Regions from separate parts of the Homo sapiens genome. Here region 2 is linked to region 1. The links come from fine-mapping of genetic effects on gene expression. Tissue or cell type: whole blood. Region 1 holds a variant in brackets; the other region holds the start of a gene. All regions are shown on one strand. Distances are from middle to middle.

The links. PIP is the estimated chance that this variant, and not a neighbour inherited with it, causes the effect.
Region 2: NIN starts here. The variant in region 1 is fine-mapped to the expression of NIN in whole blood (TOPMed, PIP 0.95).

What each region holds. Positions count from the first base shown.
Region 1 is chr14:50,734,650-50,742,961 of GRCh38, reverse strand. NIN (ninein) reads left to right here. Exons shown (of 31, transcript NM_020921.4): 25 at 1,234-1,380; 26 at 3,475-3,654; 27 at 4,676-4,822; 28 at 7,345-7,446. Among named protein-coding and RNA genes, the nearest start is that of SAV1, 70 kb to the right of the region's middle. The variant T/A (reference allele first, on the strand shown) is at 3,535.
Region 2 is chr14:50,827,136-50,835,447 of GRCh38, reverse strand. It overlaps NIN (ninein), which reads left to right and starts at 4,286. Exons shown (of 31, transcript NM_020921.4): 1 at 4,286-4,442; 2 at 4,931-4,984. RefSeq lists silencers at 3,945-4,394, 4,445-4,724, 4,795-4,844, 4,865-4,984 and an enhancer at 5,555-5,604.

The DNA of each region.
Region 1 (8,312 bases):
AGTATGACAAAATGATTTAAATAATATTTCAAACATTGCAGCAAAATAATTTAAATATTTCCATCAAAGTTTATTAATTATGAAGGCTTGAGAATAGTGCATAAAAATGACTGCTTGTTCCTAATTTATAGATAGGACTTCTAAGGCAGTTTATGCCCTATTTTGAAGATCTATATCAACATTCCCTTTATGAATTTAAATTTTTAAAATTGGAATTTATATGCGGTATTAGCGTAAAATAGGATTCTTCTTTAAGAGGTGAGGTCTTAGCCAGGCACGGTGACTCACGCCTGTAATCCCAGCACTTTGGGAGGCTGAGGCAGGCGGATCACGAGGTCAAGAGATCAAGACCATCCTGGCTAACACAGTGAAACCCCGTCTCTACTAAAAATACAAAAAAATTAGCCGAGCGCGGTGGCAAGTGCTTGTAGTCCCAGCTACTGGGGAGGCTGAGGCAGGAGAATGGCGTGAACCTGGGAGGCGGAGGTTGCAGTGAGCCGAGATCGTGCCACTGCACTCTAGCCTGGGCGACAGAGCAAGACTCTGTCTCCAGAAAAAAAAAAAAAAAAGGTGAGGTTTCTTTGTATCCCAGGCTGGATCACCACTTGCTGCCACCTCAAACTCCTGGGCTCAAAGGATTCTCCCACCTCAGCCTTCCAGGTAGTTGGGACTACAGGCACACGCCACCACACTCAGCTTTTTATTTTTGGTAGAGATGGGGGGTCTTGCCATCTTGCCTAGACTAGTTTGAAACTCCTGGGCTCAAGCGATCCTCCTGCCTTGGCTTCCTAAAGTACTGGGATTCCTGGTGTGGGCCACCATGCCTAGCCTAGAATAGGATTCTACAAGTATATATTTTTATTTGCAACTAAGAGGGTCCTTTACAGTCCAACATCATAGGCTAAAACAATTTCTACAAAATTCAGTGAAACCATCTTTTGTGATGCCAGTTGGCACCCATTGGTATTGTAAGATACCATTTAGTAATCTACCAGATGACTATCAGCAATACCTTGCTCCAGACATAGTTCATCATTGTCCTAAATATAATTTAACATCCTGTAAATATACCTACTGTCCTAGGTTTCCACTGAGCTACTGACAAGAAAGCTGGATTTAGTAAAGAGAAACAAACAGACTTGAAAGTTCTTTTGTCCTTATTCATTCCTGAACATGCTAGAGGTGAGACCACAAGAGTTTGTGTAGCAGTAAAAGATCATTCTCACAATACAGGTTCAGAATTTAGAAGACACCGTGCAGAATGTAAACCTGCAAATGTCCCGGATGAAATCTGACCTACGAGTGACTCAGCAGGAAAAGGAGGCTTTAAAACAAGAAGTGATGTCTTTACATAAGCAACTTCAGAATGCTGGTGGCAAGGTGATTTGTTCTTTTTTTATTTAGGTATAAGTTATTTACAGTAAAGTATACAAATCTTAGGACAACTTGGTTATTTTTATGTGTATATGTATGTACATATAAATATGCATATTTTATGTATCTGTGTTTGTATAACCATCACTTAGATAAAAATGTAGAACATTTCCAGCACTCAGCAGGCTCTCTCTTGTTCCCTCCAGTTGGTAACCCCAAGGGAACCACTTTTGTACCCTCTGCCACTGTAGTTTAGGGATGCTTTTTTCTAAATTTCATATAAATGAAACCATAGTGATATAAAACAGGTCTTTTTTTTGTATTGAGCAAGTCAGAAGACCATGGCTGAGTTGAGTTTTGTAATAACAAAACTAAAACATTTTCTTAAATGGTAGAGAAAAGTATTTGTGTGACCTTAAAAAAAATCAAATGTAGAAAAACATTGCAAGAAATTAATCTGGGAACTTATACACAGACTTGCAAAAAAGTACAGCTTCTGCTAAAAAGGCATAAAACAATAGTATTGAATTTCAGGAGATAATTCATTGCTACAAATAGGTTGCTATGGCACCAGAAAGTCCAGGAAGAGCTGATTAAAGTGTTAGCTGGCTGACACATTATGGTGGTGTGGTAGAAAGTGTCTCATTTTAATAAGTCACAGTGCTGCCTAATCTGTGTGCAAATAAATTAAGAACAATGTTATAGATGTCATTTTGGGGCAGATGTCAAGATTTTGTCCTACAATAAAAGTAGACACATTCAGTTATCTCTTGGTGAAACTTTTTATAAAAAAACTAGTTGTTTTGGGCTGGGTGTGGTGGCTCATGCCTGTAATCCCAGCGCTTTGGGAGGCCGAGGCAGGCAGACCACTTGAAGCCAGGAGTTCAAGACCAGCCTGGCCAACATGGCGAAACCCTGTCTCTACTACAAATACAAAAATGGCCAGGCATGGTGGCTCACGCTTGTAATCCCAGCACTTTGGGAGGCCTAGGCGGGCGGATCACGAGGTCAGGACTTCAAGACCAGCCTGCCCAACATGTTGAAACCCCATCTCTACTAAAAATAAAAAAAATTAGCTGGGCATGGTGGCGAGTGCCTGTAATCCCAGCTACTCGGGAGGCTAAGGCAGGAGAATCGCTTGAACCCGGGAGGGCTAGGTTGCAGTGAGCCAAGATCGTGCCACTGCACTCCAGCCTGGGCGACAGAGCTAGACTTTGTCTCAAAAAAAAAAAAAAGCCAGCTGTGGTAGTACATGCGCCCATAATCCCAGCTACTTGGAAGGCTGAGGCATAAGAATTGCTTGAGCCCGGGAGGTGGAGGTTGCAGTGAGCTGAGATCGTGCCACTGCACTTCAGCCTGGGTGACAGAGTGAGAGTCTGTCTCAAAAAAAAAAAAGTTTCCATTTTTAAAATTACTTCTGGGTTGACTTTTTCTGAAAATGAGATTGTACCTTTTTTTTTTTCATGTTTGGTTTAAAAGGTAAGAGGCTTATCTATTTGTGTTATCTTTTTAATTTTTTAAATCATTTTCAAGATCCAAAAAATCACTTTGGTAGCTGAAAGCACATTTCTGAATTCAGACGTTAATTACATGGACAATATGTGCTTTGGATTCTAAAAAAAGGATATGATTGCATATGTGAAAATGAAAGTAGAGTTTAGCCTATGAAAGCTTTTGAGTTGGCAGTGCATTTCAGCCTTCTCTTTATGTCCTCTGTGAATCAAATGAATATCTTCTGGGCTTAAAGATAACTTCGTAAGAATGAAGCAACTTTTAAGCCACCAGTCTCAATGCATTTGGGTCCTTTATGGAACTGGGCCTTGCCCTACAGTCATATTCATTATTGGACATGGCATGGCTGTTTTGTCAAAGACCATTTTAAACAGAGACTCTCCAAATCTTTTTGTTTAAATCAAACTTCAAGAATATTGTTTTATTCATATTTATATGTACATACACATACTTTCATTAGAAGACTGAGGGGACAATTGAAAGGTACTTATTAGGAGTCGTTGTCATTGGGTAAACATGACACCTGTCTCAAAACAGCAATTACCCAATAGCTTGTTTTTAAGGCTTACACTCTGCAATTCTCTTAAGAGCTGGGCCCCAGAGATAGCTACTCATCCATCAGGGCTCCATAACCAGCAGAAAAGGCTG[T/A]CCTGGGACAAGTTGGATCATCTGATGAATGAGGAACAGCAGCTGCTTTGGCAAGAGAATGAGAGGCTCCAGACCATGGTACAGAACACCAAAGCCGAACTCACGCACTCCCGGGAGAAGGTAATTGGAGAAGCTGCACATCATGGCATATGTTTGAAAATGACTAGTTTGATAGGAAAATGAATGTTGGATATGATTGGAATGGTTCTAAGGTATGGATTTGAGTATCCTGCTATAGCAGACTTATTTTAAGAATGTATCATTTATCATTTACTCACATATAATTTTATCCTGATGTTTATAAAATATTTTTATAAGCAGTTTTATATTAAAATATATTTGTGACTTTAATCTTCATATCCAAAATATAGACTCATGGAAATTATGTGAACCATATAGTCTTCAAATTGGCTGGCCACCAAGACTAGTAGTACAAAAATGGTAAAACTAGACTCAGATCTTGCAGGTCTAAATAACTCCTCACGAGAGAAAAAGGTGCCTCCTTTAAAAGACAGCATTTCAAGGTTTAAGGTCTTTTCCAACCACCAACTTGGTGCTTGAATTCCTTACCTCTGCTGCATAGTCTCCCAATGATATTTAACCTATGCTTAACACCCCTTTTGAGGAGGAACTCTGAAGAGTCGCAGATATTTAGTTAGAACACCTACTCCATGCCAGAAACTGCTATCACGGATGCTGCAGTGGTGAGCAAGACAGACATGGTTCATGTCTTCGTAGAACTGTTTTAGATGTGAATAGTCCAATAAGAGCAGATGGGAACTGTCAGCCCATTCTCTCCTAAAAGTAGTGTTCATGTCAGAAAAAAAGGGCCTGGGACCACTGTGCCTGTTTTCCTGGCAGCCACATCACATACACTGTTGACTCCTGGAGAGTTAGTAGACCCAGAAGTCCCCTCTTCCCAGTCTTGTTCCTACAGTCCTGGGTTTGCAGACCCAACCAGACTCACCTAGAAAGGGTCTTTTGAAATCCAGAAAAGCTAGCTTCAAGTATTTACAGGCTTGATTGAAAAAGGATGTTAAACAGGACCCAAGTACTGAATTAAAACTTTCCCTATGTTTGTTGTTTTTGCTGGCTGGGTGATTGTATTAGCATTTTTTCCTCTTACATTTGTTCCTGTTAGGTCCGTCAGTTGGAATCCAATCTTCTTCCCAAGCACCAAAAACATCTAAACCCATCAGGTACCATGAATCCCACAGAGCAAGAAAAATTGAGCTTAAAGAGAGAGTGTGATCAGTTTCAGAAAGAACAATCTCCTGCTAACAGGAAGGTGAGTTTTTGAGAATATATGGCGTACATCTGTGTTCTCACTATAATGCGTTCTTAAGTGTGTTTCTTCTCAGGTGTACTTCTAAGGAAATGATTACGATGGCATATTTTGGCATGTATCTCTTTATGCTGTTATCTTGTCAAAATAGCATCGTGGTTCTTTTTGATTGAATAATGGTTGAAAAAATAACAGTTTGGCCGGGTGTGGTGGCTCATGCCTGTAATCCCAGCACTTTGGGAGGCCGATGCAGGCAGATCACCAAGTCAGGAGTTTGAGACCAGCCTGACCAATACGGTAAAACTCCATCTCTACTAAAAAAACACAAAAATTAGCCAGGCATGGTGGCACATGCCTATAGTCCCAGCTACTTGGGAGGCTGAGGCAGGAGAATTGCTGGAACCCAGGAGGCGGAGGTTGCAGTGAGCTAAGATCACACAGTGTACTCCAGCCTGGGTAACAGAGTGAGACTCTGTTTAAAAAAAAAAAAAAAAAACAACAACAAAAAACCACAATTTAAGCTTCTTAAAGAAGGCAATTAATCATCTTTATTAGTATTAGAAGCCCTTATAAGTTGGCAAAATATTTATCACTCGAATATTAGAAACATCTTAATATGGGCTTTTTTTTTTTTTTTTTTTTTTTTTGCTATGTAACAAATTAAAACAACATTTCTTGTCTTATCTGCAAGTCAGGATTTCAGAAGCAGCTTAGCTGGGTGGTCCAACTCAGGGCTCTCATGAGGATGCAGTCTACATGTTGGCCAGGCCTGCAGTTACCCGAACGCTTCACTGGGGCTAGAGGATCTACTTTACAAGCTCATTTGTACAACTGTTAGCAAGAGGCTGCTGTTCCTTGCTGGCTGCTTGCCTGAGACCTCAGCTCTTCACTACCTGGGCCTTTTCTCAGGGTGTAGCATCTGGCTTCCCCCAGAAGGAGTGATGAAACAGACACTGAGACCGAAAGACCAAGACAGAAGCTGTGGTCCCTTTATGATCTAATCCTGCGAGTGACATACCAACATTTCTGCTGCACTGTATTTGTCACGCAGACTAACCCTAGTATAGTGTGGGAGAGGACTGTATAAGGGTGTGAATACCCGGAGGTGGGGCTCTTTGAGGCCTCTTGGAGGCTGGCTACCCCCTGGTCACACCTCTGCAGTGCCAATCAGTTTGCTTTCTGTAATTTGTCCCATGAAGTTAGAGTTCTAGACCAGACTTCTCAGAGTTGTTACTTTTCTTTTTCTAAACTGAAACTCAGTTTTCACTATTACCTCTTTATAAAAAATATGGTCTGTTTAGAAATCTGAGAAAAATATTTCATTATAAAATATTCATAAAATTTTTGTTTTTTGTGAAAGTTATCATGACCATTTGCAGTAAGAAGACCTGGTTGTGCTCTAAAGCTGAAATGTCATTTAATTTCAGGTACATTCAAGTAAACTTTGCAGAAAGAAAATGGGTTTCATTTAGCTGCTCATTAGGGGGAGAAAAGTCTGTGATAGGCTTTTAATAATACTGAAGTTTAAAATGGACCTGGAAGACTACACTTCTGTTTCACAATTCTTGCTGTTCTCCTCAGCTCTTTTTGATAGAAGCAAAATCAGCTTTCTAAGATAGTGTTGTATGTTTTTTACTGAGCAATATTCTGACTCGGTGTCCTCTAGCTCACTAGGTTCTTCCTGTAGTAAAGAGTTATAAAAGTGAGGCTGGACGCGGTGGCTCATGCCTGTAATCCCAGCACTTTGGGAGGCCGAGGTGGGCAGATCACGAGGTCAGGAGTTCGAGACCAGTCTCATCAACATGGTGAAATCCCATCTCTAAAAAAAAAAAATATACAAAAACTAGCTGGGTGCAGTGGTGCACACCTGTAGTCCCAGCTATTTGGGAAGCTGAGGCAGGTGAATCGCTTGAACCTGGGAAGCGCAGGTTGCAGTGAGCTGAGACTGTGCCACTGCACTCCAGCCTGGGTGACAGAGTGAGACTCTGTCTCAAAAAAAAAAGGTACTCACGAAATCTTTAAAATTAAAAAGTTATATAAATCAGGTTTTATGTACTCTCAATTTTAAGCCTTTAAGTTTGCATTAAGACAGTATTTTTCCTGCTGCAGATCCATAGTAGAGGATAATGAAATCAATTTAATGGAAACCAGCATTTTTTATTAATATACTACAAAATATCAGAGTACATGGTCCATGGTAAGGATATTTCAGTGATATGTACTGTACATATGTGTGGGTGTGTGTACTGCGTTGTAAGATAAAACGTATTTCTTACAGTGGGTGGCATCCAAGTTTAAAAGCCAGCTGCCTTAAGGAATCTATTCTGTGTGAGGACAGGTGATTAAAACTAGATTACTTAAATGTAAGCAATACACTGAATTGTATTATTTGTTTGTCACTGAATTAACTTGGCTTTCTTCCAAGAGTTGAGATTTCTGACAAGCACAGATTTGTCAAAATAAAGTAGAACAACTCAAGTGTTTTTGTTTCTGTTTCAAGGGAATATTTTGTTTTTTTTAAACAGGTCAGTCAGATGAATTCCCTTGAACAAGAATTAGAAACAATTCATTTGGAAAATGAAGGCCTGAAAAAGAAACAAGTAAAACTGGATGAGCAGCTCATGGAGGTAAGTTTCTCAGCAGATGGCCTTAGCTATGAAGAATATGTTAATCCATGAATGAGGTATTTGTTGGGAGAGACTAGACATGGCATTGAATTCCCGTTGTGAAAATCTAAGTACACTGCCAAGTTGAATTCTTTGGTCCGCCTTACCAAGTTTAACAGACAACTTTGCTTCATTATACTGCCATAGGAAGCCATACTGCTTTTCAGAGTAAGTAATAATGATGACCTAAAATGCAAAGACCTGTACCTCTGCAAATTCAGGGGGCAGGGACTCTCTGATTAGCCAAGGGGCCCTGAGCACTCTTGCCATCACCATGTTTATACCAGTTCACTGATCCCTCCTATATTGCAGCATTTTATAGACATGATTGATCTCTAGCACCCTCTTCAGTTGGGAAATCCATGCGGGAAATTTGAGAGCATTAACATTTGGAAGTTTTAATTTCAAGTGCTGCTATTCTTCATTACTACATTTAGAACTCAGGACTGCCTTGTGAGAGGTACATCTGATCACTATGAAAATGTATTTGTGGCCGGACATGGTGGCTTATACCTGTAATCCCAGCATTTTGGGAGGCTGAGGCAGTCAAATGGCTTGAGTCCAGAAGTTCAAGACCAGCCTGGGCAACATGGCGAAACCCTGTCTCTACAAAAAAAAAAAAAAATACAAAAATTAGCCAGGTGTGGTGGCACGTACCTGTAGTCCCAGCTACTTGAGAGGCTGAGACAGGATTGTTTAAGCACAGGAGTTGGAGGTAGCAATGAGCTGAGATCACACCACTGCACTCCAGCTTGGGAGACAGTGAGAGACCCTGTCTCAAAAAGAAAGAAAAAGAAAAAAAATGGATTTGTAAAACTAGCTTGTCA
Region 2 (8,312 bases), 92 kb before region 1:
ATGATCTGGGCTGAAAGAGCAGCAGAGGGAAGATTAGAAGGTCCACATGAGCAGAGTGGAGGGAGGGTAGGTTTCCTGCAGACACTGAGGATACATACCTTTGCATTGATCAGGAAGGACCTTGAATGTCAGGAAAAAGATCTAGGACCTGAAGTGAAAAGCAATGGTCAGAATGATCAAATGGAAGCCACGTTTTAGGGAAATCATTGCTCTCTTCTTCCCATGCTGTAGCGTGTGTATGTCCCCCAACTGGAGAATGTAATTAGAGTCCAATGCCACCTAACATCACTCCTTTACTGTCTCATGAGTGCATATTTTTACCTTCCCAAAAGAGAATGATGCATTCCTCAAGGGTAAGAACCAAGGTTGATTGTTACTTCATTTTGTTTTGTTTGAGACAGGTTCTCACTCTGTCACCAGGCTAAAGTGCAGTGGTGTAATCGTTGTTCACTGCAGCCTTGACCTCCTGGGCTCAATCGATGCTCCTATGTCAGTCTCCTGAGAAGTTGGGACCAGAGGCACGTGCTACCCAGCCTGGCTAATAAAAAAAGAGGAGTAGAGAAGGGGGGTCTCACTGTGTTGCCCAGGCTGGTCTTGAACTCCTGAGCTCAAGCCATCCACCCACCTTAGCCCCCAGAAATGTTGGGATTACAGGTGTGAGCCACCATGCCCAGCCTGATGTTTATTTTGAACATTGTGTGACTTTCAGGACAGTATTAGGCACAGGGTAGGCAATCAATGCTTACTTTAAAAAAATAAATTGTATGGAATCCTGGTTTCCTCTTCTTTCATTTTCTTCATAAGGAAAATGAATAGAGAATCCTAATTTCTAATAGGTGTCCCCCAGGGGCAAAAGTGTAAATCAGTTTGCCTTCTGTCACCTTCCCTTCCCTTTCCTATACTTTTCCTCTTTCTTCCTGGGTTCTTAACCACCAACATTTTGCTGCTGGAACTCTTAAGTCCCTGACTTGTATGTCTGGAACTCAAATTTCTCCCTTTTTCCTTTCCTCATTCATTTTCCTTAGGGCCTTGGGGAGATCATTGATGTCCCTTTCTTTCACCGAGTGAGTTCCTGGGCCAAACTATAACTGATCATCTACTTTAACAATCTGGCTGTCTTTGACACAGCTCTGCAACTTGCCTGAAAACTGTCCTGCTGAGTTCAAATGGTCACAGAAATAAGAAAGATATCGATTAAAGAAGTTTAGAAGGAGCCAGGAGTTGCTACATGAGTGACAGGCTGTTTGACTATTCTGTGAATAAAAAATAGTTTATACCCAACTGTGAGTTGGGAGAGGGTAGACTATGTTTGGTTAGAGCCTTTTTTTGGCTAAGAAAAAAAAAAATAACTTTTCAGGTTCCAGGAAATTTACAAAGCCTGACTTTTTCTCTCTCTTTTTCTCTCTCTCTCTCATTTGTCGTCTTGACTCTAAACTGATAATTTCAAAATTACTTCAAGAAGAAACAAAGAGTAGGCCAGGCGTGGTGGCTCACGCCTGTAATCCCAGCACTTTGGGAGGCCGAGGCAGGATCACTTGAGGTCAGGAATTCAAGACCAGCTTGACCAACATGGTGAAACCTTGTCTCTACTAAAAATTCAAAAATTAGCCAGATGTGGTTGTGCACATCTGTAATCCCAGCTACTTGGGAGGATGAGTCAGAAGAATCGCTTGAACGCAGGAGGCCAGGAGGTGGAGGTTTCAGTGAGACAAGATTGCACCACTGCACTCCAGCCTGGGCGACACAGTAAGACTCCATCTCAAAAAATAAATAAATAAATAAATAAAAAGAAAGAAAAGAAACAAAGAGTAACTTTCTCTTCCCTGGATTATTCTTTAGTTAACGTTTTAGAGCTTTAACCATCTGAGAAAGCCAGTTCCGTACTGTGAAATATGGCAGAAAACCCTTCAAAAACTTCACGTACAAATACTTCAAGGATCCTAGGTCCTTGAACAAGGTTCTTTGTAAAGTGAGAGTAAAAATCAGAGTCAGATAAGCTGCAACAGATAAGAGTGAAGTTTTGTTTGTAAAGGGTGATAACTCTGAATAAATATTTACATTTCTTCTTTTCTCTCTTATATTGGTTATAATGTAGAACTGGAGCCTGGTTGCTACTTCTGCTGTTATTTTGTGTTTAACAGAGAAAAGATCAAGTAATGGGCTCTAAAGGAAGTCTCTGCTTTTTTTTCCCATGACTCCAGTTTGGACTAAGACTAACCATGTGCTCAGTGCAAACCAAACTGCAGGCCCATTGTGTTAAATAAATCATCTTTCTTGGTAGAGTTGCTCTTGCCAACCCACACCACGCGGTAACCATGCTCCATGCTTTCCCTCCTTTGTAGCAAGGCTGGAGGTGATCCCAGTTCCCAGTCCCAGGGCTAACTCCACCCCACTTACTCCTCTCAAGAAAGCGCATCTTGTGTTTTTCAAATTACACAACCCCCAGCAATTCTGATCTTCCTGCACAGGGAGTGAATGCCACTTCCAATATCCCCTGACCCCCAGGAATCACTGTTTTAAACTAATGATCAATATCATCCTTAAGGATTCTTGCAGGTTAAAAAGCGATGCTTGGAGAGGTAACCAGTAGGATGAGGCTTCCATGGCAGAGATTAGGTGAAACAAGAAAGACACCTCTTCATTCTTACCTTCCAAGACTGTTGGCTGTTTTAGTGCCCAGTGAGCATTATTGTCTGTCTTACAAGATGACCTCTATGTAAGTATTCTGGTAACAGGTTAGCTATCCTCTTAATGAACTGCGTGTGTGTGTGTGTGTGTTGTATCATATTACTGGATGACTGAACAACCATGCATACAGTGTATGAGTGTGTGTTTGTGTGTGTATGTGTACTTATTCAAGACTGTTTAAAAAGGAGAGAGGAGCATAAATCTCTCTTATTCTGCAGGCACGCTTATATACCGTGTTGAAAGAAGAGAGCCTGGGCTTTTGAATAAGACTGAGATGTTTAAAATTTTTAAAAAAATTTTTTGAGGTAACTGTAAATTCGCTTGAAGTTGTAAGGAATAATAGAGAGATTCCCTATAGACGCTTCACTTAATTTTTCTCAATGGTAACATTTTGCATAACTGTAGAACAATATTACAATCAGTAAATGGACATTAGTGTAGTCCAAATGTCTTATTCAAATTTCATGAGTTTCACGTGCTCTCATTTGTGAGTGTATATTCAGTTCTATGCAATTTTGCCACATATGTGATCTGCTTTTGAATCTCAGTTCTGTGGAGTTCCTGCTGTGTGATCCTGAGGAAGCTCTTTGACTTCTGGGAGATCCATTTTCCTCATCTGCAAAATAATGTCTGCCTCCTAAGAGTGATGTGAGAATTAGATAAGATAATTTCTGTCGAGTTTCTAGCGCACTGGATTCTCAAGGAATGCTGGTTTCCTCTTGTCTGTTGCTTGCTTTCTCGGTAGAAAAGGAATCACCAGTTTCCTGCTAAAATAACCAGACTTGTGGGTTGTAATCCATCAGGCGGATCCTTCAAGGGCAACACATTTAACCCTGCAGCTCAAAAAGAACCATGGCCTGGACTTGGGATCCTATTTGACTGCAATGAGATCAGAAGTGTAGGGATGGGGGAGTGAGAACGCAGACTCTGGGGTAGTAGGTAGGAGGCGATTAATATCGAGCAACTGTTGGGCTGGGAACCACCAACTCCAAGGAGTTTTCGTCCTGTGTGGCTTGCGACCGAGGGTTAGCTTCACCCGGAGAAGGCTGCACAGGGGCGGGAGCCTGTGAGGACGTGGTGGGCAGGTGCGGAAGCCAGTGTAGACCCGGCAGGAGGGTCGCGCTCGCTCTACAGGGTTCCGAGTCACTTCTACAGCCCTTCTGCCTCCTGAACACCCTTTCCAATGTTGATGGCCAATCGACACCCGAGGGCTGGGAAATCACCCCCTTAAAGTCCCGCTTGCTGAAGGCGGGGGCCCTTCCTCTGCGCGAAGACGCTGCGGCCCGAGTGTCCGCGGTGCGGGTGAGTGTAGGCGTGTTGGGAAAGAAAGGGAGGCGGACAGGCAAGGGGCGAGGGTGGCAGCGCCAGCCCCAGCTCGGTGGCGACCTCGGGGCGCCAGCCTCCTACACCCGCACCCGGAGCCCCGGCGTTTCTAACTTCAGATCTCGGAGGCGGGCGCTCGGAGCGGGAGGGCGCGTCTGCGAGGGCTCAGGCGGCGCCGCCCGCTCCTCCCTCCGCTGCCTGAGCCGCGCGGGCCGCAGAGGAGGAGCCGCGCCGGGGCCGGCGTCGCCCTGACTCCTCCTCCCCGCGCGGGCCCGGCCCTTCCTCCCCGGCGTCCAGAGCTCCGGGTGGCCGCGGCCGAGCCGGGAGCCGAGCGCGCTGGGCGCGGCCGTCCCGCTGCCGCCGCCAAGCCCGGAGTGCGCCAGCGGCCATGGTTCCCGCGGCGGCGCCGGGCGCCTGAGCCCCGGGACGCAGTAAGTGGCGCAACCCCGGGGACCCGGACCCACGGCCTGGGGGTGCACGGAGGCCTCGCGCTGCCCCCGCGCCGTCGGCGAGGCCCTGAGAGCCCGGAGCGAACTGGGCACCGGATCACTCGGGGGCTTCCCATTTGGGGTCCGGGGCCAGCGGGGCGCAATCCCTGCGGGCCGGGAGGAAGCAGCGGCCGGGCGGGAGGACGAGGCGGGGACGGGGCTGCTTCGGAGGCGGGAGGAGGGGCCGGTCCCGGAGGCGCGGGCTGCGCGGGCGGGGGCGGGCCGGCGGGGGCGGGGAGGATGCGCGCTGCAGCCCGCGGCCCCCGAGAGCCGCGCTTTTGTAAGAGCTGGCCCCTTACATATGGAAATGACGCTCACGCGGGTCCCCATTCGCGTCCTTTTGAAGGACGCCCGCCCGGAACCGCTGCGCCGGCTGCGAAGTATTGTCCCGTTTCTCCAGCCCTAACAAAGCGTCCTCCTTCGCTTTGCAGAGCGCTGGAGGCGGGCTGCCGGCTGTGCGGGCGCTCCGGAGAGACCGACAGAAGGTAGGCGAGGGCGGCGGGGCCGGGGGAGCGCGCTGCCTGCCCACACAATGGGCTGTCTGAGGTTTCTGGTAGTGGCGATGGGCAGGCGAGTTGAGGACGCATCGCAGGTGGCCAGGGACTTGGGAGGCGCGCTTGTCCTGCGGCCGCACCTCCGCTTCCCCGCGCGGCAGCACCGCTGGGTTTGGGCACTTCCAGTACCCCCGACGCCCCGGCCGCCTGCCCGGAGCTGAAAGCCGCTTCTGTGCTTTGACCGAGAGCAGGCTTGAGTCCCCGAGGGAGCAGAAGGGGTGGTGGTTCCGTTGGCATGTGCCGCCCGTACAGCCTTGTGATTGAGACGCTGCAGAGGAAACTGCATGGGGAAATCCGAGGTGTTAGCCTGGGCTGTCTGAGTAGCGGAGAGCTGCTTGGAGCCCGGAAAGTGGAGATTTTTGGAGGTGTGCGGGGTCGATGCGCGTAAACAGTTTCCCAGTATAATGCCCAGGAGAAGGGGAAAGAACAAAATGACATTTGGTTATTGCCTAAAAGGTGTGGCATGGAGGTATGGAGTGTCGGGGAAGGAAGCTTCCAGCGGCTAGGCTTCTGTAGCTACCGAAGCGGCCCCTGACAGAAGGACACTAGGTGATGGGAACAGTCACTGCTTCCAGCTCTCGCTGCGAAGTTAAAAGAGATAGAGACGGAAAGAGGCAATTTCCCTAACCCCAGCCCTGACAACCCGAGGTGAAGGCACCAACAAAATGGGAGCTGGAAAGACTGCCCTACCATATATCATGTTTCCAGACAACTTGGATATTATGAGATCTGCTTTCTGCTCCTAACTAGGACAGATCCTCTCCTGGTGTTGAGGACTTCTAAGATGGGCTTGCCATACAGCTCAACTCCTGAATTTATTACATCGAAACAGATTGCGTAGTTGTCTTTTGTGACTGACATGGTAGCTTTGTAGGATGAGAATCCTGATAAAGTCCATCCTGACACATGAGGGAAGCCCCTGGAACCACGACGTTTCTCAGTTAGGTCCCCGTAAACACCATAACATACACACATGTTTGCATGATTCCGGAGGCTTGATGATCTAACAAGGAAAATTCCTTTTTTCTGTCAGTTTAATTTTACCTTGAGTCTTCTCTCGTGGTGAGCATATTATATAGGTGGCTGACCTGGAATATTGGTGGCTCTTGCTCCGGAGTTGAAGGGAGCTGAGGATTTCCAGAGTGTGTATAGGAGGAACATTACAGGCTGGCTGAAAAACGAGTTTGTGTGTTGTGGTCTCTTCAGCTATTGTCAGTGTCCTTTGGGAGGTGATGTGAACTGCCCGGGAATTTGTTTGCAGATTTGTTTATTTTCCCTGTTCTCTGGTGATTCTTTAGAGGGAAGCATTCTGCAGAGTGGGGAAAAGGTAGGATGAATGTTCCACAGGGTTGGACATCGGCAAAGTTATTACCAATACAGGGAAAGGCTTCACAGGGGGCAATAGAGAGGAAGCCATCATACAGTCTGCATTAAAATGTCAAGGATCAGTCATTTTAATAGGCACTTGCTCAGAATGGCGTGGGGTTCTTTTTTCTTATTTCTTTTTCATTTTAGATGTGTAATGACCCTTAATATCAAAAGATGTTAACTGTCACAGAGGGGGAGAATAGGGCTCCAGTGAATTCTGAACAGCCAATCTTAATGTAATAGGCAGTATTCTTATCATGAGTCAAATGTTCAAATAAATTGTTTTAAATGTCACTGCAAATGACTTTCTAAACTAACATTTCAACTATCTTGATGCTTCCATTTTATGTTGATAATGAAAATGCATTTTATCAGTCTTACATTGATAAAGGGTGGGCAAGCTTAGCCAGAGCATTTTAGAAGGATTTAAACAGCGTGAAGCCTTTTTAGAAGGCTTATTTTTATAGATGCCAATTCATTTGTAAGCCAATAAATTATCTGGTTTGAATTCTAGCTATTGAACTTGCATCTGTTGGGCAGGGGCTTATGGAGAGACTTAGTGAAGCTTGCAAAAAGATTTTTATCCTATTTATGAATAAAATAGAATTTTGAAAAGATTATGAGATTCTGAAAGTGAGCATCCTTGTTTGAAATTAGGACACTTCTTTATTGCAATTTAAGTCAGCAATTAACCATTTATTCAAGCTTTTGGATGGAAAAATTACAAAGCATCTATCTATACCCTAATTCTCACTTTAAAAACAAAGTTGGGAAAATATTGTTCATAGACGTGAGAAGAGAAGATCACCTTCACTTACACCTCAGGGTACCATACTCATAGCCTCAGGCATCCTAAATTAATGTGAGTCAATATGGCTTAAGAAGTGGAAGTTGTTATAAGCTTTCTCCTTTTTTTTTTTTTTTGTAACAAACATGCAGCTCTGTTTTCTGCTTCTGTAATTTACTTAGTAGTTGATTACAGGTTACTGAATGCACATTGTGCCAGGCTAATGGCGTTTTTTTGTTGTTGTGTTTTTTGTTTTTTGTTTTTTTTTTCCTGTAGCTAACCTGAGTTAACTACTTGATTGGGTAATCTACCAGTTATTAGGTTGAACAAAAGCATGGGTTTATTACATCCTTCAGGATAGTAAAATAATAAAGGTTGCTTACATTTTCGAATAAACGCTGATAGGATTCCCTTAGTTAAATATTATAGTGTAGTTGACAAAGGTTGTTATTTTTCTTTTTCTTTCTTTTTTTTTTTTTTTTTGATACGGAGTCTCTCGCTCTCTCCTGGGCTGGAGTGCAATGGCATGATCTCGGCACACTGCAACCTCTGCCTCCCAGGTTCAAGCAACACTTCTGCCTCAGCCTCCCGAGTAGCTGGGATTACAGGTGTGCGCCACCACACCTAGCTATTTTTTTTTTTTTTTTTGTATTTTTAGTAGAGACAGGGTTTCAACGTGTTAGCCAGGATGGCCCCGATCTCCTGACCTTGTGATCCACCTGCCTCAGCCTCCCAAAGTGCTATGATTACAGGCATGAGCCCCCGCTCCCAGCCATTTTTTCAAATGTATTTAATGTGACTTTCTTCCTGTGCATTTAAGCTTTCGTGTTATATTTTTGTATCATGATTTCATTCACAGTGATATTGTTGTGCTTTTGGTATCCAGCTAGAAGTGAGACACTGAGCAGAGAGGAGGCATTCTGACAGTAATCAGTTTGCTGCTAAGCAGCACTGGTTTTTGGCGGAAGTATTCTCCTATATAAACTCGTAAATGGCTGCAACTGCTTTTTCTATTGAGCTTTTACTAAACTTGAATTTATCCTTGTCACTCTTTCCTTTTATACTGAAAGTAGTCCAATATGGTGAGCCTGAAAATCTGTGCAG